Linked DNA regions of Homo sapiens: regions 2, 3, 4 and 5 are each reported to be linked to region 1. The links are microRNA targets in miRTarBase. Many come from high-throughput screens and were not tested one by one. Region 1 holds a microRNA gene; each other region holds the end of a gene's coding sequence.

The links. Region 1 holds the annotated microRNA hsa-miR-4289 (GCAUUGUGCAGGGCUAUCA, at 2,800-2,818, shown strand). A microRNA usually pairs through its seed, bases 2 to 8, with sites in the 3' UTR of a target mRNA and lowers its output. Matches are read on the target gene's strand: a 7mer-m8 pairs with bases 2 to 8, a 7mer-A1 pairs with bases 2 to 7 and ends in A, and an 8mer does both.
Region 2: miRTarBase lists ZNF620 as a target of hsa-miR-4289. The part of its 3' UTR that is shown has no 7-base or 8-base seed match.
Region 3: the mRNA of SLC25A21 is a reported target of hsa-miR-4289. Seed matches in the 3' UTR shown: 7mer-A1 at 523-529 and 8mer at 627-634.
Region 4: miRTarBase lists CFAP418 as a target of hsa-miR-4289. The part of its 3' UTR that is shown has no 7-base or 8-base seed match.
Region 5: miRTarBase lists CEP350 as a target of hsa-miR-4289. Seed matches in the 3' UTR shown: 8mer at 2,186-2,193 and 7mer-A1 at 3,664-3,670.

Annotation. Positions count from the first base shown.
Region 1 is chr9:88,743,586-88,748,694 of GRCh38, reverse strand. MIR4289 (microRNA 4289) reads left to right here and starts at 2,790; the gene lies at 2,790-2,859. RefSeq lists a silencer at 687-981 and an enhancer at 878-1,566.
Region 2 is chr3:40,516,127-40,521,235 of GRCh38, reverse strand. ZNF620 (zinc finger protein 620) reads right to left here. Exons shown (of 5, transcript NM_175888.4): 5 at 2,500-5,109. The coding sequence ends at 4,373. Among named protein-coding and RNA genes, the nearest start is that of ZNF621, 6.3 kb to the left of the region's middle.
Region 3 is chr14:36,675,854-36,680,962 of GRCh38, reverse strand. SLC25A21 (solute carrier family 25 member 21) reads left to right here. Exons shown (of 10, transcript NM_030631.4): 10 at 244-3,042. The coding sequence ends at 305. PAX9 (paired box 9) reads right to left here. Exons shown (of 4, transcript NM_001372076.1): 4 at 1,601-4,765. The coding sequence ends at 4,511. Among named protein-coding and RNA genes, the nearest start is that of PAX9, 17 kb to the right of the region's middle.
Region 4 is chr8:95,242,876-95,247,984 of GRCh38, forward strand. It overlaps CFAP418 (cilia and flagella associated protein 418), which reads right to left. Exons shown (of 6, transcript NM_177965.4): 6 at 2,038-4,895. The coding sequence ends at 4,742. Among named protein-coding and RNA genes, the nearest start is that of CFAP418-AS1, 23 kb to the right of the region's middle.
Region 5 is chr1:180,110,716-180,115,824 of GRCh38, forward strand. CEP350 (centrosomal protein 350) reads left to right here. Exons shown (of 38, transcript NM_014810.5): 38 at 282-4,160. The coding sequence ends at 446. Among named protein-coding and RNA genes, the nearest start is that of QSOX1, 42 kb to the right of the region's middle.

The sequences.
Region 1 (5,109 bases):
ACTGGTCAGTCAGGTGCCTCTCACCTGGACGGTCCAGCCTCCCTCTTTGCCTTCAGCTTCCTCTGGCCACAGGAAGGGCTCAGTGTCAAGGGCAACTTCTTCCTGCTTCGATTCTCAGGAACAGCCATCTGGTATTTGTCCTTCTTGTCTGGCGTCTTTCACTTAGCACACTGTCCTCTGAATTCACCCCTGTTGTCACAAACGGCAGGATGTCCTTCTTTTTTAAGGCTGAATACTACTCCATAGTACAGACATATGCACCAGACTCTAATGAAGTTGACCTCTTAGAAGCAGAAAGTAGAAGGGCAGTTACCAGGGGCTGGGGAGTAGGAAAAAACTGTGTGGATTTTGGTCAAAGGGTACAAATTTCCAGTGATAAGATACTTAAGTTCTGAGGATCCATGAACTGCATGGTAACTATAGTTAATAATACTGTACTGTATGTTGAAAATGTGCTAAGAGAGTAGAACTGAAGTGTCCTCACACACACAAAAATAATGGTAACCATGTGAGGCAGTGGAAGTGCTGATTAGCTTCATCTTGGCCGTCACTTCATGATATGCACATGCATCAAATCATCACATTGTACAATTAACTGTATACAAGCTTTATTTGTCAATTACATCTCAATAAAGCCAGGGGGTGGAGTCGGGAGGGAGGAACTTCTGTCTTGCTCTAGGTTTATGCAGTATCTTGTAAAGACAGCATGAGTCATCATCACTATCTGGCCCAGCCAAGTACTCTGGGGCCCTTTGTGCTGCAAATCGGTTCACACACACCAACCAGTGTCTTCTCATGATGCACAGCTGGAAGTAATTTCTTTTTAAGCTTTAAAAAAATTCAAGACACAGCTTATCCTTGGTGTCCACCCGCAGGTAGTCAGGCCCTGAGAACATGTCACCTGTGGGCAAACGCTAACTTTCCCAAGACCAGGATTAAGTGTTGAGTGGGAGGTGAGGCCTTTGTCCTGCCCCTCTCTCCCTGTGTGGACCGACTGACCAACCCGCCAAAACACTTTGAGAGCCACTAGACATAGTAGCTTACTTCTTCTCATGCAGATATTCCTTGGAGGAGCCTGGTGTATTTATTTTAAGAGTTGCTTTCAGAAACAGAGGACCTCTCTTCTGTTTCACAAAATACATGTCACAGAGAAGAACAAACCCACCCATGGCCAGCCTCTGGCTGTGTAATTGCTACTCTGCACAATAGGAAATGAGTGGCCACGGCACAGGTAGCCCATTTGGGAGTCGCCTAGAGCCCTGTCCCTACAAAGAAATTATAACGTAGCAAAAAACCAGAGGCTCCCTTCCTTGAATATCCAGGCTTAGGCCTAGAGCACGGAAACAAGACCAGTGTAATTACCTCGCATGCATAATCACTGCTGAGACCTGAGAACAGAGGCCGGGCCCTGCCTGGCCTTCGGCTGTCTGGCCATAAGCAAGCAGCCACTGAAACCAGGCAGCTGGGGTGCAGGGTGTTTGTGTGTGTGAAATGGCTCTGCTGCCCCGAAGCAAGGAGCAGGGAGATGGCTTTTCCCTGTGTGGCTTACCTGGGTCAGAATCAACAAGCAGGAGCATAAAACAGAGATCAGACCCCAGGAGGAAATGACAGCCAGGCCCACTTTGTGTGCACGAGTGAGGGTAGGCATGGGGAAGATTCCTGTTTGCTTGTCCCTTTTAAAAAAGCAAAACCGGCACAAGACTGTGGTCAGGAGCTCAGTATACAGGAAGGGGCCGAAGTCTGACAGCCTTCCTCAGAGCCCCGGGTGGCCTGGGGAGGAAGGCATGCTGCCCTGAGACTGCTGTGCAGGGATCCCTGGAATTCTCCTCCAGCATTAGCTGTGGTAGAAGGGACTTTTCTATTTTGTGATTCAATCTTTTAGTTAGATTGCTTGGGGGACTTGATACTAGGAAAATTTTAATGGTTTTACCTAAACAAGGGATAACCTTGTTTTGGAAGCTTATGATATGGAGGAAAGAGTTAACTGTAAAATCGGCAGGCCTGGGGAAAACAAAACCAACCAAGCAGTAGCCAGGGTGGGTGCAGGGCTGTAGCCAGAGCTCCGGGCTGCCCCACGGCACTCCCACTGCGTCAGGGAAGCCTTTTCTGGCCTCCTAGTTAGGAGGCATCTCCTATTACACACTCTTGGAGCATTTTGTAATTCTTCTGAGAGTTTATTACCCTAGCCAATGAATAATTGTGGAATTACTCAATGTTGTCTCCCCCTCTGGAACATGATACAAATGTCAGCTCCATGCCTGACTTGTTTGTTGCGGGATTCCCTGCGCCTAGACTAGTGCTTTGCACATGCAAGGAGCTCATATTCATTGAATAACTGGATGGGAGGGTGGATGGGTGGGTGCATGGATAAGAATGAATGGTTGGATAGGTGGATGGACAGATTGAACAGACAGGCAGGTGGATGGATAGATGGATAGAAAGATGGATGAATATAGATGGAGATAGATGGGTAGATGGATGAATGGGCATGTGGGTAAATGATTGCAGAAATGCATAAATGAATGAGTAGATAGATGAATGGGTGGGTGAAGTGGATGGGTAGATGAATGGATGAGTGGATGGGTGGATGGGTGGATGGATGGATGGATGGAGCCCACAAGGTCATTAAAGCATTTTGTTCTCTAACTTCTGAACTGAACTCCACTGGTTGTCTATAATAAGAGCTTTTACAGAGGGAGGTTGAACACCCAAGCATGTTGGACATGAGTGACAGCAGCTAGCATGGTATCTCTGCCCTAGATGCACTGATGGCAGCAGAGAGCTCTGTCCCTTGGGAGGGCATTGTGCAGGGCTATCAGGCAGTTTCCTGGGCCCTGTCTGCAGAGCCTAAACAGATCACATCTGGCCAGTCTCAACAGGGCCTCCTTACCCTATAAACCATGCATGTATTTATGTAACACTTCAGGCCTGATGGAGACCAGATGTGACCAAATGGTGCTTTATGCGGCCCAGGAATGCTGAAATACCAACATAGACATCTTTTATGGCTGCTCTTGCTCAGCAATCTCTCTTTAAATCTTAGGTTTGAGCCCTGATATACAACCATTAACTTCATTCTTCTGTGAAACAGAAACATCTGGCAACATCTATTTGATTTGTTATCCTTATAAGAGAAATACAACTATGTACAACTTCTATTCTCAGTTAGTGTAGTACAGTAAAAAGAATGTTGATGGGGAGGCAAGAAACCCAGACCCAGCTCCGCCCTGTACCTCCCTTACTGGCTGGCCTTGGGCCAGTTGGTTCTCACCAGGACTCAGTTTTCCATTGGTAATTTCAAGAGCTATCATTTATTAAACACTTCCTGAGTTCTAGGCACCCTACCTTGTGCTCAGTAAAAGCTACAGATCATTGCCACAACTACACCCCTATTCAAATGTACAAATGGATACATAGGCGTGAGTTTCCAATACCCATCATCCTTAGGAGGCAGATCCCAGTCTCAGTCTTCTGACTCCAAAACCACCTCTTCCCATTAAACCAAATGGCGGCTTTCACCTGCAAATAAGGAAGTGCAGCTGAATTGCTATTTTCTGAATTTGTGTTCCTTGGACACTTCTGTTGGGAGCGACTAATAAGTCTTTTGACCCCTCTCCAAAGAATGTGTGTTTAGGGACACTGAGGAAGTGTCCCTGAACACACATTTGGGATTTTGGATGCCCACAGAACATTACAGATGCTACAAGAATTTAAGCCTGTTTACTGTGGGGTTTCCTCATTGGGCCGCTAGAATGCCTTTGTCCCCTGAAACTCCTATTAATATCTTGAGGATCACTGATGCACATTCATACAAAAATGTTGATTGAATAGGTTTCATGCTCCTGGCAGGACAGGCTGTGTCTCTGCACTCAGGGAGCAGCCACCTTACTGACCCAGGTGCAGCTCAGCCCTGATTGCCCCTTCTATACTTTCCTGTTTATACAGAGCTCCTCCCTTCTCCCTCCATGGATGTATTTACAATGTAGAGATGCTGTTAATACTGTCGGCTGCTGCTACTTGAGAAAGCTCACCACACACTTTCCATGGGGATTGGGAATGGAGTTGAGCAGCCCCATTTAGTTTCACCAAGAGTAGTGGGACCTTGTGTACTTGTTTTAAAGTCTCACTCCCTGAAAGGGCCAGAACTGGATTCTGAGTGACATCTACCCAGTGCAATTTCTCCATTGAATAGAAAGAAATGTGCAAAACATTCTAATTATGCTTTTACAACAAGCTTTTTAAGAAAAATTACATTGCAAAGACCCAATCAGTGCAAAACTTGCCCTGAAGTTCCTTACAGTTTAAAATCACCATATCCCCTCTGCCCCTTCAGCTTCCTTCTGCAATTTAGGGTGCTCGTGACGCAGAAGGGTTAGGGGCTGCAGGAGGTCCACGTGCTTTGGCTCTGATCACAGACTGCAGCTGTAGCTTCATCTCTGTCTCTGCTCTACTTAAGGACAGCTGCCCTCAGAATGCCAGGCTGGAACATCTAAATTCTACTAAAATGATCACTCACTCAGAATCAACAGCTAGGAAGAGGCCACAGAGCAGAGCCCTTGTTAATTTGGAACATGCCAAACTGCAAAGATGGTCCATAATGCCCCAGCAGAGCGTGTGAGAGCCCAGCATCGGATTTGATGCCACCTGCCCAAGGCCCAGGCCAGTGCAGCAGCGCTTCCTCAGATGGGTGTGGGCTTCGGAGCCCTGAAACGCTTCCCAGCCCAGAAGCAATAAAGCCCCAGTATGTCCTTTTCTGCAGGCCAGCACCCTGTCCACAATCCCGAGGGATGAGGGATGGCCGCGTCATCTCCCACTAACAGCGAAGCCCAGGGTGTGCAGTTCCACCCCCTTCCTAAGATAGATGTGAATTTAGAAAACCAAGAAGAGAGCCTCTTGCCTCCATGCAGCACTTCTGAAAACAAGCAAAGCATTTCAGGGGAGGAGCAGCAGGCGGCTCTGGAGCTTTGCACAAACCAGCCGGGAAGGCTTTGACTGGAAGGCAAGCAGGGCTACCTTTTGCCATGATGATCTTTAGAGGCCCACGTTTCTTCTTATCCTTTCTTTAAAAACAAAAACAATACTATTATTTCTTAATTGTCTGAACTCAAA
Region 2 (5,109 bases), not on the chromosome of region 1:
TTCTCCATAAATTGGTCATTATATTCAATGCAATCCCAATCAAACTCCCAGGAGGTGTTTTGTAGAAAGTGAAAAACTGATTCTAAAATTCATATGGAAATGCAAAGGACCTCTAATGGCCAAAACACCTCGACAAAGAACAAAGTTAGAGAACTAACACTATATGACTTCAACACTTATTAGATTTCAACACTTATTAGATAACTATAATAATAAAGGCAGTGCCTTAATGGCATCAAGACAGACAAACAGATCAATGGAACAGTATCTAGAAATAGACCCACACATATATGGACTTCTGCTTCACAACAATGGTACAAAGGCAATTCAGTGGGGGAACTTTTTTCAAAAAATGGTGTTACAGGCCAGGCAATAGTGGCACAGACTTGTAGTCCCAGCTACTCAGGAGGCTGAGGCAGGAGGATCACTTGAGACCAGGAATTCAAGGGTACAGTACACTGTAATGATGCCTGTGAATAGCACTGCACTTCAGCTTGTGCAACATAGTGAGACCCATCTCTTAAAAAAGAAAAAAATGGTGCTACAATAGGATACTTATATGAAGAAAAAGAAAAAAACTTGGATCCATGCCTCAGACAAAAATTAACTCAATAGATGATAGAATTAAATGTAAAACCTAAAACTATAAAACTTCTGGCCAGGTGCGATGGCTCACACCTGTAATCCCAGCACTTTGGGAGGCCGAGGTGGGCAGATCACTTAAGGTCAGGATTTCGAGACCAGCCTGGCCAACATGGCAAAACCCCATCTCTACTAAAAATACAAAAATTAGCTGGGCATGGTGGCACCTGCCTGTAATCCCAGCTACTCAGGAGGCTGAGGCTGGAGTATCGCTTGAACTTAGGAGGTGGAGGTTGCAGTGAGCAACCTCCGAAGCTGCAATCATTGAGATCCTGCCACTGCACTCAAGCCTGGGCAACAGAGTGAGACTCTGTCAAAAAAAAAAAAAAAAAAAAAACACAAAAACTATAAAACTTCTAAAGGGAAAACTTTAGGAAAAAAATCTTTGCAAATGTGGGTACAGCAAAGATGTCTTAGATTTGACACTGAAACCATGATCCATTAAAAAAAAAGGCTAGACACAGTGGCTCATGCCTATAATTCCAGCACTTTGGGAGGTCAAGGCAAGAGGCTCGCTTGAGCCCAGGAGTTCAAGACCAGCCTGTGCAACATAGTGAGACCTCATCTCTATTTAAAAATAAAAAACTGATAAATTGGATTTCATGCATATTAATGTCTTCTGCTCTTTAAAAGACACTGTCATGATGTGCACCTGTAATCCCAGCTACTCGGGAGGATGAGGTGGGAGGATCACTTGAACCTGGGAGGCAAAGGTTGCAGTAAGCCAAGATGGTGGTACTGCACTCCAGCCTGGGTAACAGAGTGAGACCCCATCTCAAAAAAAAAAAAAAAAAAAAAAGACACCATTGTGAGAATGAAAAGGCAAACCACAGGCTAGAAGAAAATATTTAAAAATCACATATCTGAAAAAGACTTGTATCCACAATAAATAATGACCTCTCAAAGATTAATAAAACAAAAACAACACAATAAAAACATGGGCAAAAAATATGAGCAGACACTTCATCAAATAAGTTATATGGAACACAAATAAGCACAATAGTCATTAGAGAAATGCAAATTAAAACCACAATGGGATAGCATTAAACAATTAGAATAGCTAAAATTTTAAAAACTGACATCAAGTGTAGGCATAGATGTATTGGAAGTACAACTGTCATACAATGCAAGTGGAAATGTACAATGGCACAACCTCTTTCGTAAAACAGTTTTGAAGATTCTCAAAATGTTAAATAGGGTATGGTGGTGCACACCTGTAGTCCCAGCTACTAAGAGTAGGACAGGGGGACTGAGGCAGGAGGATACCCTGAGCCCAGGAGTTTGAGTCCAGCCTGAACAACAAAGCAAGAACTGCCCCCCACCAACCTCTAAAAAATAAAAACATAATAAAAATTTAAAACGTTTAATCTATACCAATCTACCTAATGACCTAGCCATTCCACTCCTGTATCAAGATAAATGAAAGCATATATTCTTACAAAGATGTGGACACAAATGTCCATAGCAGCTTTATTTGTAATAGCCAAAAACTGAAAACAACCCAAATGGCCATCAACAGGTCAATGAATAAACAAATTATGGCATATCCATACAGTGGAATACTACTCAGCAATAAAAAGGAATGAACTATTGATATATATGCAACAACATGGGTGAATCTCAAAGTAATTATGCTGAGTGAAAGACACCAGACCAAAAAATAAAGGAAAATTAATCCAAGTGACAGAAAGCAAACCAGTGGTTGCCTGTGAAGGGCCAAGAGGAAGGGATTATGGAGGGGTACAAGCAAAGTTTTGGGGTGGTGGCTGATTATTATCTTGAACTGTGATAATTGTTTCACTAGTATATTGATAAGTCAAAACTTACCAATAGGATTATAATAATAGGTAAAAATTTTTTTTTTTTTTTTTTTGAGACGGAGTCTCAATCTGTCACCCAGACTGGAGTGCAGTGGCATGATCTTGGCTCACTGCAACCTCTGCCTCCCTGGGCTCCTGCCTCAGCCTCCCAAGTAGCTGGGACTACAGGCACATGTCACCCCACGCCCAGCTAATTTTTTGTACTTTTAGTAGAGACAGGGTTTCAGTGTGTTAGCAGGATGGTCTTGATCTCCTGACCTTGTGATCTGCCCACCTCAGCCTCCCAAAGTGCTGGGATTACAGGCATGAGCCACTGTGCCCGGCCAATAATAGGTAATACTTTTATTATATGTAGTCACTGTTTGAAACACTTCTACAAATAATGCATTTAATCCCCAACACAAACCTATGAGGTAGATTAACTGTCATCCTCATTTTACAGATAAGGAAACTAGTGCAGTTTTTGTAACTTAACCAAGGACAAACACCTGGACTCAAACCAAAGTCTGCCTGGCTCTGTATTATTAATCACTACTCTCTGCTTCCTGCAAAATCAAGCTGGCTGCCAGAGGGGATGCTAAAACCTAACACATTTACATCTTCCCTCATTTCCACAGGTAACAGCAATAATGGTAGGTTCTTCCATGATCATAAAAAATAACTAGATGGAATTGCAAGAAAATGCTGCCTGCTTTGAGGTCACTTGAAACAGCAATGAGAATAAATTTAAGACAAATGGTGCCTTGCACCTGACTCAAAGAGTATATACATCCTGACTTTTGCAAAGGCACAGAGTACAACTGTCTAGTGAAGACAAACTGAAGAATAAGTAGGGTGGGTGGACACTGAACCTGAGATAGGTCTCTGGAAGTTTGCACCCTACTAGGAATGTCTTCCAAGATGCATTTGGCTCCACATGGACAGGGCCCGTTTTTGAATTTAGGAGACTTCTGACGTACGGACTGCAATAGGGAATCCATATATCTGTCTTTTTATTTACTGGTTTACTCCTTGTGTAGTGTTGCACATATGAGAAAGGATGCATGGGAGATAAAGATTTCAGATTTAAAGGGTCTGAAATGCCTTTATTCTATACTTATACTTTGGAGTATAGAATTGCAGGGGAAAACATTTTCCATGAGAAGTCTGAAGGCATACACATTGTCATCTGACTTTGAAGGTTGCTCTTGAAAAATCTAATGCCATTTTCATTTTTTACTGTTTTTGAGACAAAGTCTCACTCTGTCGCCCAGGCTGGAGTGCAGTGGTGCGATCTCAGCTCACTGCAACCTCTGCCTCAGGGATTCAAGTGATTCTCCTGCCTCAGCCTCTCTAGTAGCTGGGATTACAGGCATGCGCCACCATGCCTGGCTAATTTTTGTGTTTTTTTTTTTCAGGAGAGACGGGGTTTCACCATATTGGGCGGGCTGGTCTCGAACTCCTGACCTCATGATCCACCCGCCTCAGCCTCCCAAAGTGCTGGGATTACAGGCACGAGCCACCGCGCCTGGCCCCGCTTTCATTTCTGATCTTTTGTTTTCTCTCTCTAGAAACTTTTTAGGGTCTCATTTTTTCTCCATGATCCTCTTATTCAAACTTGGTGTTTTCATAATTCACAGCAATTTTCCTTAATGTAGGTTTCCCTTGAATCCATCCTGCTGGGCACCCAGCATGTCCTTTAAATCTGGAAACTTACATTTCCTTTTATGTTTCTAAGTTTGTTTGTTTGTTTTTTGGTCTTCTCTAACCATAAAGAGACTTCATGTTGGGGAAACAGGTTCAAAAAACTTAAAGAAGAGTTCATGATGAAAGCCAAGTGTCTAACCAGGAAGGACAGCGAGGACACTGATAAAAAGCATGAAAATAAAGAGAAAAAAGGAGAGGCACAGTGGGCCTAACTATGGATAGCCCTATGCTTGGACAGGTGTCTTCTGAGTGTGTAGTTTCTGATGCAGAATGAATCTTCCACACCAGCTGAAGGTTTTACCACACACTTTACACTCATAAGGTTTCTCGCCAGTGTGAACTCGCTGGTGCTGAATCAGGGTTATTTTCTGATTGAATGCCTTCCCACACTCCTTACATTCAAAGGGCTTCTCCCCAGTGTGAATTCGCTGATGCTGAGTCAAGGCTGTGTTGGAGCTTAATCGTTTTCCACACTCTTTACATTCATAAGGTTTCTCCCCAGTGTGCATTCGCTGATGGACAGTGAAACTTGAGCTGCAACTGAAAGTTTTCCAACATTCGTTACATTCATAGAGCTTCTCCCCAGTGTGGAACCTCTGGTGCTGGAGGAAGACAGAGCTGCTACTGAAGGCCTTGCCGCACTCCTTACATTCATAGGGCTTTTCTCCAGTGTGGATTCTCTGATGCTGAATCAAGGCTGTGTCTGAACTTAAACCTTTTCCACATTCTTTACATTTAAATGGTTTCTTTCCAGTGTGAATTATCTGATGCCGAATAAGTAATGAGTTATATCTGAAGTATTTTCCACATTCTTTGCATTCAAAAGACTTTTCACCAGTGTGACATTTCTCATGTCGGTGGAAGTCTGCCATTTGAATGAAATATCTGCCACATTGTCCACATTCATAAGATATCTGACCACTAGGATTTGTCTGATTTGTAGTGAGTTGTGTGCTGACGC
Region 3 (5,109 bases), not on the chromosome of region 1:
CAAATGATGAAAGTTGCAAAAACTCATGGGGAAAAATGTATTTGGAGACTCAAGATGGTCTTGATTTTATCCTGAGAATTTTCCACAGTAGTTTATATCTTGGTATTGAAGCTCCAGAACTGTTGATTCCGAACAGCCTCTGCCTGACAGGCTGTGCGAGACATCATGGATTCAGAAACCCAGTGGGAAAGCCAGTGCTATTCCAGAGGATTTGCAATAAAAAACAGCTCTTTTCTTTTCTAGGTGGTGCAGTGATGCTGCTGGTTTATGAATACACCTATTCATGGCTTCAAGAGAACTGGTGATTGCCTATGAAGTGTTTTTCCCCCTTGAGATAATGGATATTTGCTATGCAGCACCATGAAGAAGAGAGACTATCGATCGGCCAGGTGTATAATTATGAAGGAGAAAACTGTTCAAGAACAAAATCTATTTTAATACTTTAAAAAATGTCTATAGGCAACTTGAGATTATAGTTTTGGCTGTATAAATAAAACTGTGAGAAGAAAAAAATAATATGAAACAATGAGGTATTTAAAGTGAATATAGAAAAATAGCATAGAAATCATATATTTATTTCATAAAATAAATAGAAACTTTGTCTCCTGTGTTCCTCTTCAATGCTTCACAATGAAAATTCATTGTATTGATCAGCATTTTTCCTAAGAGGTCTAGAAATGCTTAAACTATTGAAAATAAATCAAATTATTCAAAGACTGGATTAAAAAAAAGTTAAGCCAAAATTTAAGCAGTTTTTATAATGAATTAAATTATTCCATAAATAATATTTAAAGAGCACAAGAAAAATTTTTTAAAGTGCACTAAAATGACCTTTTAAGAATGTTTAATTTTATGAATACTATGTTAAAATGTAAATCTGTTGGTTTTTTTTAGTAACTATGCACATATCAGCTCTATTTTCCTACATCTACTTTATATCTCATATTGCTGTAAGATAATAAATAGGTATTTTAAAACATTGTTTAAAACAGAATGTTAAAACACTGTTGTTTAAGCATGTTTAAATCAAGGTATTCCAAATCTCTTCTAACACAAGTAGGAAACATGAAATAAAATTTACTTTCCTCCACATAGTTCTCTTTGAAGATAAGTTTTGTTGATGAGATATTGTCATGTTAAATCACAAATTGGAAACACCTTTGGACCCATTTGTCAGCCATCAGTATTTGCATCCAAATACCTTTATTCAGCATGCCTACCTGTGCCATTTTTAGGAAGAATGTATAGAACAGAACTGCATTTTCAGGTTATTAGTTTTAAACGACAACTTCAGGTGGGAAGTCAGCTGTCTGCAGTATTAAAATATGTATGATGAAGGGGAAATGTTCTGAAAAAGAAATACACTTAGCATTTCTAAGGATTACTATACTAACATGTATCAACAAAAATATCTCCTTGGTCTTGATGTAACCAAACTTGATTTTATATCTGCATCCAGAGATGATGCTGATTCAGTAAAGTCAACAAGAATAACTGAAAGTCCATATGACACCTGTCCTAAGTTACTACCGTGGGCTATTTCTACTACGGGGCTATTTCACTAAAGCATTTTGAAAATAAAAAGTAAAAGATAACATGGTAATTATTACTTTTTATTAATTTAGAGCATTTGAAGTATAAAAATAAAAGGCTTTTGACATACTGTATATACATACATAGCCTTCTGTTGTACATCCTTTCCAACGTGTTTTTTAAAATTTATATTTCAGTCCAATATTCAATAAAAGGGTCATTAAAAACAAAACAAAATTGTGAAAAAAAAGAAATAAGAATGTGTCTCTGTTGCACAACTGCATTCTATCCTTGCAGGTAATATTCTTACATCCAATGAGAGCGCTGCCTGCATAGAGGTCATGAAATTGAACCTTTAACCTCTCCATGTGGATCAGATAGAAAAGGATTTCTGAAGAGTGCATTTGCCAGTTTAAAAGCAACACTTTTACCATCTATGAGATAGAGGAAATATGTCAACATTAACCAATAATAATCTTTAAAAGTTAACCCTTTAATCCATCCTATTTTCCTTCTCGTATTTTAAAAAGTGGCTTTAAATCATAATTTTCTTTGAATAGCAAATTGTATCTGATATCTTTTAAAAATTACTCCATGTGAATTCACTGTTAAGACCTAGAGGGAGAAAAGGAAACTTCAATACCATTAATATTAGATTTTTTAAAATACAAGAACCAGAAAAAAATTATAAATAGCACAATAACAAGAGATTTCTTAATTTAGATAAAGAAAATAACATTATTTGCATTTCCACACAAGCAAGTAATATTTTTTAAAGCCCCCTAACAGCCACCTAAAAACATTTGATAAAGAATAGTTCTGTACCTTACATCAGTTTTTCAGATGACAGGAGAGTCCCTGTATGGTATGGTTTTAAAGAAGTCTCCACCAAAATATTGGATTGGATCTTTGTTCCATTCAGTTTATAGTCTATTTTCTCACCAGACTGGGAACTCCAGATGTCAATGGAAGTTTTACAAGATCAAAGGAAGACTATGGCCCTGAGAGTTCATCTGCTCCTTCTGCTTATTCTTCTCCTGAAGTTATAATCCTCTATTTGTAGCACTGAATTTCGGTTGCTTTAGAAATAAATGCAGTTCAAAGCTCTCTATAAGATATCTGCTGTCTGAAAAAAGCAGTCACTCTAACATAATTTGTGTGTCAGAAATCTGCTTACTGTTTACATCCTAGTGATTTGAAAACCTAACTAATCTAGCCATCTGAGTTTTAAACGAAGCCACGAAACCGATGTGGTGGAACCGCATTGCCATGTAGACTGTGCACAGCACAGACCGGAAGAAATTAAAATCACCTAGGGAATCCATCTTCAACATCCATATCCAGTGAGGTGCTCTTTTAGTTATTGCACAGAATTAGTACCAAAAAACCCTCAATATATTAATTTTCCAACAGCTGAATTGTACCAATGTCCTAAAAACATATTTTTAAGCCTATATTGCCAAACAGGAAGAACTTCCTAAACAGAAGGGATTAAAAACTGTAGAATTTTGCCCCAGAAAATCAATTGTTTTAAAATACAACACATACTCACATGCTCACACACACATATACTCCACAACTGTTATTAACATTAAAGTGAAAAATAAATTGGTCTAGAAAGGTTTATGAGTTAAACTGTGTCCTGTAATTTCAGAAATGAATAAAGGGAATTTGTTAAAATTAAATAACATTGTATTTCTAGTACCACCACCAGTTTACCTACATGCGAAACATGCTTCTGTACAACAATGTAAACTTCACAGCAAGCCATTGTTACATTCATTAGAGCAGAATTTTCCATTTTCTTTAAATTACAACATTATTTGGGGCTGAGATTGCTGAACACACAGGTAAGCCAACAATAATAGGACAATTTAGTTTCACAGTGGTTTTCTTAACACAAAGTTCATTTTAAGCATCTTTGCAAAACATTTCACATTAAACTTAAGTTTCTAAGTGACTTCCTTTAGAGCCTTCTTGTTCAGATATTTTCCACCCTCTTGTCTTTATATGCTTAGCATGTGTGTTGTTTGATTAGGTACAAAATGGGAGACTGGCTTGTTTTATCTGTTTTTCGTGTCCTCTGCTGTAGAAATAAAGTGTCCTTCATGAGATGTTGAAGCCTTCACTGCATACACAAAATTTGGGGGCAAGTCCAGGTCCAGGAGCCCGAGCAGCCCACCACCAAACAGAGACAAAGACGTTGCCAGAAAGTCACCTTTGCAAAAAAGAAAGAAAAAAATAGAGAGGGGGTGGGGCTGAGGGGAGGGGAATATCTTATGGAATGAAGACACAAATGCACCATCCAGAGTCCGTATTTACAAACTAATAGAAAATATAAACATTATTGTATTTGGAACCAAGTCAAAACACCAGGGAGAGCTAGATTCAGATATTGCTTGGGTTCTACATATATTTTTCAACAAAATAGGTCATGTCTTAAACAAAGGATCACTCAAACAAGTCACTTATTGATTTGTTTCCTAATGATGAATTAAAGCTTACTTGGTTACCATATTTGATTAGAGGGTGTAGCATAATTTTTTCTATAAGTATTTTCCTTTATTGATTTTGCAAAATCTCAACAATTGCACATTTCAAAAGTTCAGGTTGATTTAGAATAAATATACACATGTGGTTTTACCAAAGACTAGTTTGTAAAGTTCCTTAAACCCTTTGAGGGGTGTAGGTTTCTTTGTTATGTTAAGACAGTATGTGGGCAACACAAATGTCTCATTCAATGCTTATTGTTGCTCTTGTTTTTAAATCCTAAAGTCATGTCAGTTTTTCTGCAAGAGAAAAGTTATGGCAAGAAATATGTAAGTGTCATTAGCACAAAGGATGTGAGTCCGTACAGCCAGCTTTCAAGGCAGAAGGGTTGGAGGGCAGGAGGGGTGGGATGTGAGACCTGGGAATTGGGGGAGGAGGTGCTGAGACAGGGAGACCCGGGTGAAGCTGCTGGAGACGGAATTTCCCATCAGAGCGCGGAAGCCGTGACAGAATGACTACCTTCTCTGGCTGCCTGCATTCCCTTGAACGCCAGCGATGCCGGAATGTCACAGTTGTGGGGAGACAATGAGGTGCCCCCAGCATGTTGCCACCCATGTCCAGCAACATAACCAGAAGGAGCAGCACTGTAGGTCATGTAAGGCGACACTTGGGCTGGGGTAGGGTAAGGAGCCATGCTGGATGCTGACACAAAACTGCCCACAGCTGGGAGACCATTTGGTGCCTGAGAGGAGTAGAAAAGAAGTGAAAAATAATCACATTATAGGAGTGAACATTTCACACGTTCTTAGAAAGAAGCAGAACTTAAGTCTGAGTAAGCCAGCAATGCTCTGACTCTACTCTCCAACTTTTTAAAAAAATTTGAGCTTTATTATATTCTAAAGACATTCACAGTCTTGCCACTTAAACAAACATAATGACAAGATATTATTCTTTCCACAAACATTTAGAGAAAGCTGCAACCAGAAAATTCGTAGTATTTGCTTGTGCCACTTGGAAGTACAGGAAGGAGGTGCAGGGTGAGAAAAGAATTAATGGCAATTAAATACTCTTAGAATCTGTTCGGCT
Region 4 (5,109 bases), not on the chromosome of region 1:
GTTGGAGAAGGAGGAAAGCAGAGGCAGATGAAACTGAAAAGATATCGTGAAAGGCCTGAATGCCTTCATGATGACCCACTTAGGTTTAAGCCACACAGAAAGAGGCAGGCTAGGGGGAGCATCTTTTTTTTTTTTTTTAATAGAAAAGTTGTGGCTTCAACTTATATAAAATAAAGGTCGCCATGTGTACAGTCACTAGTTATAAATAAATGATCGCATTGCTGCTTTCCTCATAGGGAATAAATAAAACAAACATCTTTACAAATTACTTGTTGTAAGAATCATGCTGCACTATTACTTCAATTTAGACAGTATTTATTTTAAAAGGAAAAAGAATGAGAACAAACCATTGTGGAAGACAGTGTGGCGATTCCTCAAGGATCTAGAACCAGAAGTTCAATCCCATTACTGGGTATATACCCAAAGGATTATAAATCATTCTACTATAAAGACACATGCACACGTATGTTTACTGCAGTACTATTCACAATAACAAAGACTGGGAACCAACCCAAATGCCCATTAATGATAGACTGGATAAAGAAAATGTGGCACATATACACCATGGAATACTATGCAGCCATAAAAAAGGATGAGTTCATGTCCTTTGCAGGGACATGGATGAAGCTGGAAACCATCTCAGCAAACTAACACAAGAACAGAAAACCAAACACTGCATGTTCTCACTCATAAGTGGGAGTTGAACAATGAGAACACATGGACACAGGGAGGGGAACATTACACACCAGAGGCTGGTTGGGGGCTAGGGGGCTAGGGGAGGGATAGCATTAGGAGAAATACCTAACATAGATGACAGGTTGATGGGTGCAGCAAACCACCCTGGCACGTGTATAATTATTTAACAAACCTGCACGTAACCTGCACGTTCTGCACATGTATCCCAGTACTTAAAGTATAATAATAACAAAAGAATGAGAACATTTATTAAGCACCTATTCTGAACCAAACACTATGCTAGTCACTTTTCATGTGTTATATGATTTAATCCTTACAACAAACTTACAAAAGTGGTATTATAATTCATACAGTTAAGGCGAACGAAGCCCAAAATGTCATGTGACTTTCTAAGGGACACGACTCTGAACTCTGACTTTGTTAAACTTCATTTGGTCATCCCTTATCTCAAGGCATTTGGGGAAAGTCAAATTTAATTATCATGTACTTGTATATATACATATCTAATGCAATCTTTTTTCTTTTTTGGTTTTTCTAGTGCATTCTTAAAATAGGGCACAAAATGATGTCACAAACCCAATGAAATACAATAAGATATGAAATCTCTAAAGAGATTGCGTATTTTAAATTTTTTCTTTCAGGAACTATTTTATACAAGAGATATTGCTGATTACTGGGAGCATTAGGTTGGCTGATAGAGATTTTGTTAAAACATTAGAAATATCAGCATTTGAAATTCATGGCTAAGCTTCATCACAATGCTTTTGGATACAAAGACCTTTTTCTTTCATATTCTTAAATATCAGTAAGAAAAAGAGAGAAAGCAATTCAGATTCATAGTCTGATGACATATTCTCTGGCCTAAGAAAAAAAGGTACTAAGTTTACTGACATCAACGAACAGGTTCTAGGTATACACCGCCAAGTCAGCATGGCCTGTTCTTCCTAAACTTGGACCTGTTCCTTTGAATACCCATGGTACTTTACACATGCATGCACACACATACTCTCTTTACACATGCATGTACACACACACACACACACACACACACACACACACACACACATCAGAGTTATGGCATACTTCTCCTCCCCAGTGTAGACAAATTATCTGTTTAACTGGATGCTTGGAAACTTTTCTGTTGACATTAAAAAAATTTTTTTTGACTGGGCATGGTGCTTCACACCTGTAATCCCAGCACTTTGGGAGGCTGAGGTGGGAGGATCGCTTTAGCTCAGGAGTTCAAGGAAGCAGTGAGCTATGATTGCACCACTGCACTCTAGTCTGGGCAACAGAGAGAGACTCTGTCTCAAAAAAAAAAAACATCAAAATGATTTCAAATTAATGTCCATCCAAATGAATATTTTACTATAAAATAAAAGAAGTAAATAATACAGAGTAATTATTTATTACTTATTCATTTCTAGGCAGGATGAGGGTCTGAGAGTATAATACAGTTCAAATAAAGAAGTTACCTGGCTTAAAAATAGCTACTTGCTAAAGATAGAAAATTATTATAAATCTTAAAAACAAACAGGCAAAACATCTTGAAAGTTTTATAGGCTTTGCATTTTAAAATTATAGATGATTAGAAACTATACTTTTCTTCTATACTGATACTAAAATAGTTTCATTTTCAGCTTAAATTACAACAGTTAATAATTTATCTGACTGTATATAAACATAATATTCTTTCTACATTTTAGTTTAAAATAGTACAATATTAAAAAGCTTATAAATTGCCAATAAACATGGGAACTCACACATACATTTCTGACATTGGGGGATTATTATAATTATTATGTTATGGAATGCCAAACATAGGCAATGTATGTAAGTTTTAGGATAGTTATAATGAAATAATAAAAGGGAAAAAAAAACCAGGACAACTTTGTCCCTTCAAAGTAGAGGCAATGTAGGCTACTTTGGGAGGCTGAGGCGGGCGGATCACGAGTTCAGGAGATCGACATCATTCTGGCCAACATGGTGAAACCCTGTCTCTATTAAAAATACAAAAATTAGCTGGGCGTGGTGGTGTGTGCCTGTAATCCCAGCTACTGGGGAGGCTGAGGCAGGACAATCACTTGAAGCTGCGAGGCGGAGGTTGCAGTGAGCAGAGATCGTGCCACTGCACTCCAGCCCGGCAACAGAGTGACACTCCATCTCAAAAAAAAAATTTTTTTTTTCAAATTAGTGATTTAGTAAATTTGCTTACTGGAATAAAAAAGAAAGAATTGCACCATTATGAATAATGTGTCAAATTCTATGAGGTTCTAAATGTGTGGATCTTGTTGCTCTGCTATTTTTTTCCAGCAGTCGACTTCAATCGACATCCCCCTAGGTTTCTGACTCAATTACATATAGATATAACTTTAGGGATATAATACATTTTTATTAAAAGATAAAATCTGTCATAATGTCTTTTTTTTTTTTTTGAGACAGAGTCTCACTGTGTTGTCCAGGCTGGAGCGCAGTGGCGCGACCTTGGCTCACTACAACCTCTGCCTCCCAGGTTCAATAAATTTTCCTGCCTCGGCCTCCCGAGTAGTTGGGATTACAGGCATGCACCACCGCGCCCAGCTAATTTTTGTATTTTTAGTAGAGATGGTGTTTTATCATGTTGGCCAGGCTGGTCTTGAACTCCTGACCTCAGCTGATCTGCCTGCCTCAGCCTCCCAAAGTGCTGGGATTACAGGCGTGAGCTACCATGCTTAGTCTGTCATAATATCCTTAATACAAAAGTGTGAGGATTGGCCATTATAAGATCTATTCTGTTGCAATGCTAGACTTACTACAATAAATTTTACAAGTATGTAAATGTGTCATGGCTAGGAAAAGGATTCTAATGATCAGATCTTCCTCCCTTCAGTAGGGTGGCTGGAATAAATTTAGCATAAGACTAAGAAGATTATAACTTTGTTTCAATTATTCCCTTTCAGGGTGCTCTGTATCACACATTTGAACTATATAGTACATATGTAGCAGGGAGTTTGTGGCAGATTGGAAAGCTCCCAAAATCTCTCAATGGGGTTGGGAGCTAGAAATTTTGAGGGACCTGATTTCCTGAATGTGCTGCTATTGTAGGGCTCCTCAGATCTCAGTGATGTCAGGAAGGAGCCCAACAGGTTACCTGTTGGTTCAGTTATGCTTTACTTGTCTTTTCACTTACTCACCTAATAAACGATATGTCAACCTGATCCTACCAGAGAAGTCCACAGGCTGCCTGAAAAATTATATTACTTGCTGTTTACTTCCCTTGATGGAGTTTTAGGCATTAAAGGATAGAAAGTACTTGGAAAATCCAACAATAACCTGTATGTATTAGGATTTTTGTGATTTTGGGTGCATCAAACTCTTTTTATATATTATTGGGTAATCAAAATAGAAAATAACTTTTGATAGTTAAATGAACAAAAGAGGGAAAAATAAGCTAAAACTGGTAACATGTATTTAATATTGTGCATAACATTGCTTTGAGTTGATGAGGTAAGATCAGCTATGAGGCAGTGTTTTTGCAAAATACCTGTAACTACTTCTGAACACCCTTCAGTCAGCCACTGATCACCTGGTTTCTGCCATGTCCAAATTATGATCTTTGGCAACAAAAGATCTGACTGGAAGAAGTGTTGTAGACACCCCTAAATGATCTCTTTGCCCTGGCCGGCTTTATCCACTTTAACTGCTACAAGTTGGGGAATGATTTGCTAAACGTATTAGCAATCAATATTGCAGTTGCTAATGAAAAACTAGATATTTGTATGGAACTCCATAATCAAACCTCTATTAAACAGAAGACAGATTAGTAAAGAATGTAGATGCCTGTTACTAAGTGAAACATCCATGTATCAGGAATAATTCCAAAGTGTTATAATACATGATCTTCCTTAGTCCATTTGGTCTTCAAAAATGTATGTAGTTGTATCAATAAAATTCACTGCCTTTTCCCACAGGGAATGGTATTGCTAGGGACTATTGTCTAAACATGATGATGATTCATGGAGACCACTCTCATGGATGCATCTGTCCGAATGTGCAGTCTGCATTCTTAATGTTTACCACAAACCCAGCGAAGCTGATGATCTGTCTGAAGGTCAGTCACTTCTTCAATAGTTCTCCAGCTACACTGGCAGGCATATGCCCGTGTTCCTTTCTTCTTTATCAACTTTGCTTTTAATTTGTGAAATTCTGGCATGTTGTTCCTATTAGTAAAACAGGAAAGTTTTAGCATAGTGGCTTTGTTCAGTGCTTAATGATTAAAAAAAAAAAAAAAGGTCATTGCTTTCTTTTCTTTTCTTTTTTTGTTTTTAGGAGTCTCATTGTTACTCAGGCTGGATTGCGGTGGCACAATCATGGCTCACTGCAGCCTTGACCTCCCAGGCTTCCCCTCAGCCTTCCAAGTAGCTGAGACCACAG
Region 5 (5,109 bases), not on the chromosome of region 1:
CCTTACGTTGACATTGACAACATACTGGTAATCTTTAATATATATGAAATACTTGAATATTGTCAAATGTTATTTTTGAAGTCATTTTGATATTTGGCAATTGAGGTTTTTTCAACTTTTTGCAATTTTAAAAGGGGTATTGATATCATATGAATTATCTTTTTTCTCTGGTTTATTTCCTTGGGCTGTATTCCTATGGATAGGACTACAAAGTCAGCAATTATATTTTCTAGCTTTTGTATGACAGGAATTTTCTAACCTTATTGTCTTCTAAATCCTAGGTTCAGGAGCTCCATGAGGAGGAGGCACAGTGGGTGAACTATGATGAGGATGAGTTGTGTGTGAAAATGCAGCTAGCCGACGGGATCTTTGAGACCCTGATCAAAGATACTATTGATGTTCTGAATCAGATCAGTGAAAAGCAGGGGAGAATGCTACTTGTGTGACATCTTGCAAATAAATCGAACGCTGAGTGCTAATGTGAGTCCTGGGCCTTTCTGCCTCCTGATGTACACCCATCGCCATCATAGCAAGAGTGCTTCTGGACCTTGTACTTATTCTTAAAGACTACCAGTATGGAGTTCATAGGACAATGTGGTACACCTGGTATTACAGCCTTTGCCTTTCGAGACTATCCACTGGATTAATGGGTTATTTTCAGTGGGCAGGGTTGCACAGTGTAATCCTACACCTTTTGCTAACACCCCTACTAGGTCCCAGAGGGCCAGAAACACCTGACTTACCTCTGAGTTTAGACTAGGGTATCACTTCTTTGAGTCTGAAGTCAAGTGAGAGAGGTATAGATAAATGCATCACATCACTTTTGAAATGTAATTCTGGTCTATACCATGGAAGTCATAAATGGACATTATAGTCTCTAAACAGTATTAAACCCTTAACCACTTCTAAAATAGGCAAGCTCAATAATGTCTGCCAACTTCACATTCTGGAGTTTATTTCATTTCTTTTTGAAGACCATTTTCTTCCATTATTGTAGTTGAGCAGCACCAAGTGGACTGTCAGGCTAACAGGAATAAGTGGTAGCCTTGCTTTCTGAGCACCATCTAAAGAATTTTAAACCTCTGCATTATGTTTAGTGTTCTCTGTGTGGGCATGAAAACAAAGAAATGCCCCTACTGAAGACTGGGCTCAAAGGACCAATGCAGGGCTGGTTCTTTTACCCCTTGGTTTACTCCTGCACTTGTCTTACTCATTCTGAATCTCTACCAGCTGCTCCCAGAATCACAGATACTCAGGACCATCTCAGGCATCCAGGCATGGCAAAGTGGAAATAATTCATTTTGGCCTGCAAACCTTCAACTCCCATCTTTCCCCAAGAAGTCAGAGATGCTGTTACTTGAATGATTTAGGAAATGAGTGTGTGCACCAAAGACAAAAAGATATTGTCTATTGTTTGTGTGCTTGTTTTGCGCTATGGAACATTTTTTAATTTATTTTAAGATAAATTATTAAGTTGAAAATGTGTGTCCCTATTCAGAAGTGAAAGATTCATCTTGTAATAGTTAAACCTCCATCTTGAAGCTTCTATGGTTCATAGTCTTTGCACAGGAACCTGTGGTTTTAACAAACCAATACACATATTGAAGAAGTCATTTTAATTCAGTGAAACGAAGATGGGCTTTTCCAGATCACCTGCAATAGCAGCAGTGGGATAAAATGATTTAAAAACACTGTACAATTTAACTCTGCCTCTCTTGCAGCATTGCTTCTCACAACTATTACCTGCATCTGAAAAAAAATCTATAGACTCCAGCTGCTACATTAGAGCATAAGAGATGCTCTCCTGGGACCTCAGTACCCTGCCTTCTTGACTGGTTTCCGTTCATCAGTCCTGTCCCTCTTCAAGTAATCTAGAAGAATGTGGATACTCTTAGGCGTGAATGTAAATGCCTTAATATTGAAGGTCCTGGTTAGAAGCATGATACAAGACATCTACTGGATTCATATTTACAAATATCCTGGAATGTTATAGCTTCAAAGTATATTAGAAAAACCCCAAAGATGGTATAATCTTTAAGTGTGCACGTTCGTTTATTTCTGCATCTTCCCTCCAAACTTGCCTTTGCATCTTAAATATTTCACTATGCACACTCCCATTCCTCTTGGGTTTCATCTTGTCGTTTAAGAAATGTACTGAAATAATCATTGGAATATTTGCATTTTGCACAATGACTGGTATGATAGCTCTTGACAAATAAGGAAAGCACTGAAATGTTGTGATTGGGTCTCGGGAAATGCTCAGATTGATGTCTTACCAGCATTTCTTCTGGGCTTGTGATGTTGAGCTGTAGTCTTGTAGCCATAATGAGCAAATTGACTAAGAGAAGCAAAGGTTTCTTGGGGTTATTAACCAGTAGTGTGGAAATACTAGTTTTATGTGGCCAAGGAAAAGCAAAGGCTTTTCTTTTCAGTTTGTGTTATTTGGAAGACAGAAAAACATCTTGTCTACATCCTTTGGCTGTTTGTAGGATCACGTTGTCCTTACGATACTGAAACTTTACAGCTGCTGTAAATTTTTTATAAATGAATTTCAAAATGTTATAATGGGACTGTAGGTTGTTTTTCTACATCTTCATTATTTGGACCTAAAACCAGTTTTTAATAAGAAAGTTTATCTTTACTCTTTCTGAAATTATGACTCCAGAAAAAGAAAAAAAAAATACAAGTCATGGAATCAGCAATCTGGTAAGAAATGCTGCCAAGAATGTGGCAGTAGCTGTCCTGACAGACTCCAACTGTCTTTACTATCTGAAGAATCCTAGGCTCCACATGAGAGGCAGAAATGGATCAGTCTTATTCTTTTCTAGAAATGGTTATCTGTAGTTTGGTAGCAAAAAAAAAGAAAAAAGAATCCATAATTAGCAGATTTCTTATTAACTATTTGGATCTAATTGAAATGGCTTTATTCTTAGGATTAAGAAAGATAGATGTGGATACCCAGCCACTCGTTCCATATTGGTATCTTTTTAAATCAGCTCTGCCTCTTAATCAAGAACCTAAATATTCCCTCTTTCTAATCTTTGTTCCTTCTCCCTACACCCTCATCCTCTTTCACTCTTCCTTCATAATTCCTCTAAGAAAAATATCTTTGCATCAGCAGTAATATCTTTTAGAATAGCACTATCAGAATTTAGCAGTAAACCAACATACAGGCTTCAGATTTACTTCTGAGTCCAAAACAATTTGTGCTATCCAGGGTAGTTAACTCTGGGTTAAACAAGTACAGGGTATAGATTCCCTCTTCAGGTCTACACAGGAATTTTTACCATAGGGAAAAGTGGGGAGAGCTCAAACGTAGTTAATAAGGAAGGTAATTTGTTTTTCTTTTACCTAAAAGAAAAGAAAATTCCTTCTGTGACTACAGGTCTCTGAGAAATTATCTTTCAAAAGAGATTTCATTGCTCATAAGAGTGTTGTGGCCTATTGATAAAAACAATTTTGTTCAGTTTCTTGTCTTGAAAAAAAAGTGGCCTTAGCTTTTTGCAATACTTGAATAAAGTGTGTACTCGCAAAAGAATTTCTGTAGCACAGCATTAGAGACTCATAACTTTTCTGCAAGAAATACAAACTTACATCTTCCTTTTACTACCTTAAGAATACTAGTGAATAAAACATTAATTCAAAGAGCAAATTATAGAAACTACAATGACATTTAATGCAAATTGTAGGAATTTACATGTTTACAAATCATCTTCAACTGGTTGTGCAGCAATTCAATAAAATATCTTTGTATTATAAAAATGTGAAGAAAAAATGTAAACTGATGTAAAGGAGGTACTGTCATTTTAATTAACCTATGTTTAATAGCTTTTCCTTCTGGACTTTGCAAAGCCTTCTTGGCAAACACATTGCAAAGCATTCTCTGGGAGGTTCAGCCTCCTTGTGTGTACTGTACTGTGCAGACATGAAAAAATAAACCCGTTTACTGTGTGCGTGTAAATAGCCTGGTCATCAGGCCATTTTCAGCCAATAGTCACATCCAGTGCAATTTTGCACCGAACACTTAAGGGTGTGGTTTGTAAGTACGATCTGTAAAATAACTGGGATGAATTCCCATGTATACCTGTGTAAATAGATTTGTTAACTGAAATATACTTTAAGAAAGATAAAATCTGTAAATAAACTGATTTATAAATTAATTTCATGTCAGGTCTCCATTTTTTCCCTCCTGAGCCAACTTCAGAAAATTAGTCCCCATAAAATACATCTGATTGCTTATTTAGTCATAGGGTGCTGATGCTTGGACAGTACAATCAGGTAAGCTGTGGATAAGAGCTATTTACCTGCACATAAATGCCATCAGCACATACATTTGAGCAGCCTGGGCTTTGCTCCCACACTCATTGATTCAGCAGATAGCCACTGAGCAACTTTGTGTTCTGAGTACTGTGCTGAGTGCTGGAAACATAGCAAAAAAGACAGACATGGTCCCTGATCTCAAGAAACTTAATGTCTAATGAAAGCCACCAAAAGATATTTTGAAAACCTGTGTGACAAGTTCTAACAAGTGCTGCACAGGAAGCATACATAAGATTTGAGAATATCTTAATAAAAGGACCCAACAAGGGTAGAGTGAGTCAGGGAAGAGTTCTCTGATAAATTATAACTGTTTTATGAGCTTCTTCCTTCTAATTCATGGCAAATGCCATTTCTCCCAAATGACCTAAATTTTGATAACCCTTGCAAAATAACACATGGAAGAGTCACACTCAAGTGGACCACAAAGAAGAAGTGCAACCAGCTGATGCCCAGGTGTGGAGGCTGTAACTTATTTCTGGAAATATGAGCTTGGAGGAGAATGAAGCTGAAGTGATAGAAGAATAAAAACAATCCAAGGATGGAAGTGTACAGCACTCAAGATAATGAATTGTCTCTGGTCTGACAAATCGGAAGTGGTAACCACCATCATCTTACCTGAATTCCTCTAGTTTCCCCCAGATGGCCATCCCTGCTATATCTTTAATCCCTACCACAACCATGAACATTTCGGAAATTCTCAGAAAAAGATTGGCCCCAAATTACAGTAGGTCCTAAGAAATTCTTCCTCTCATAAAACAGATAGTTGAGACTGGGCATGGTGGCTCACAC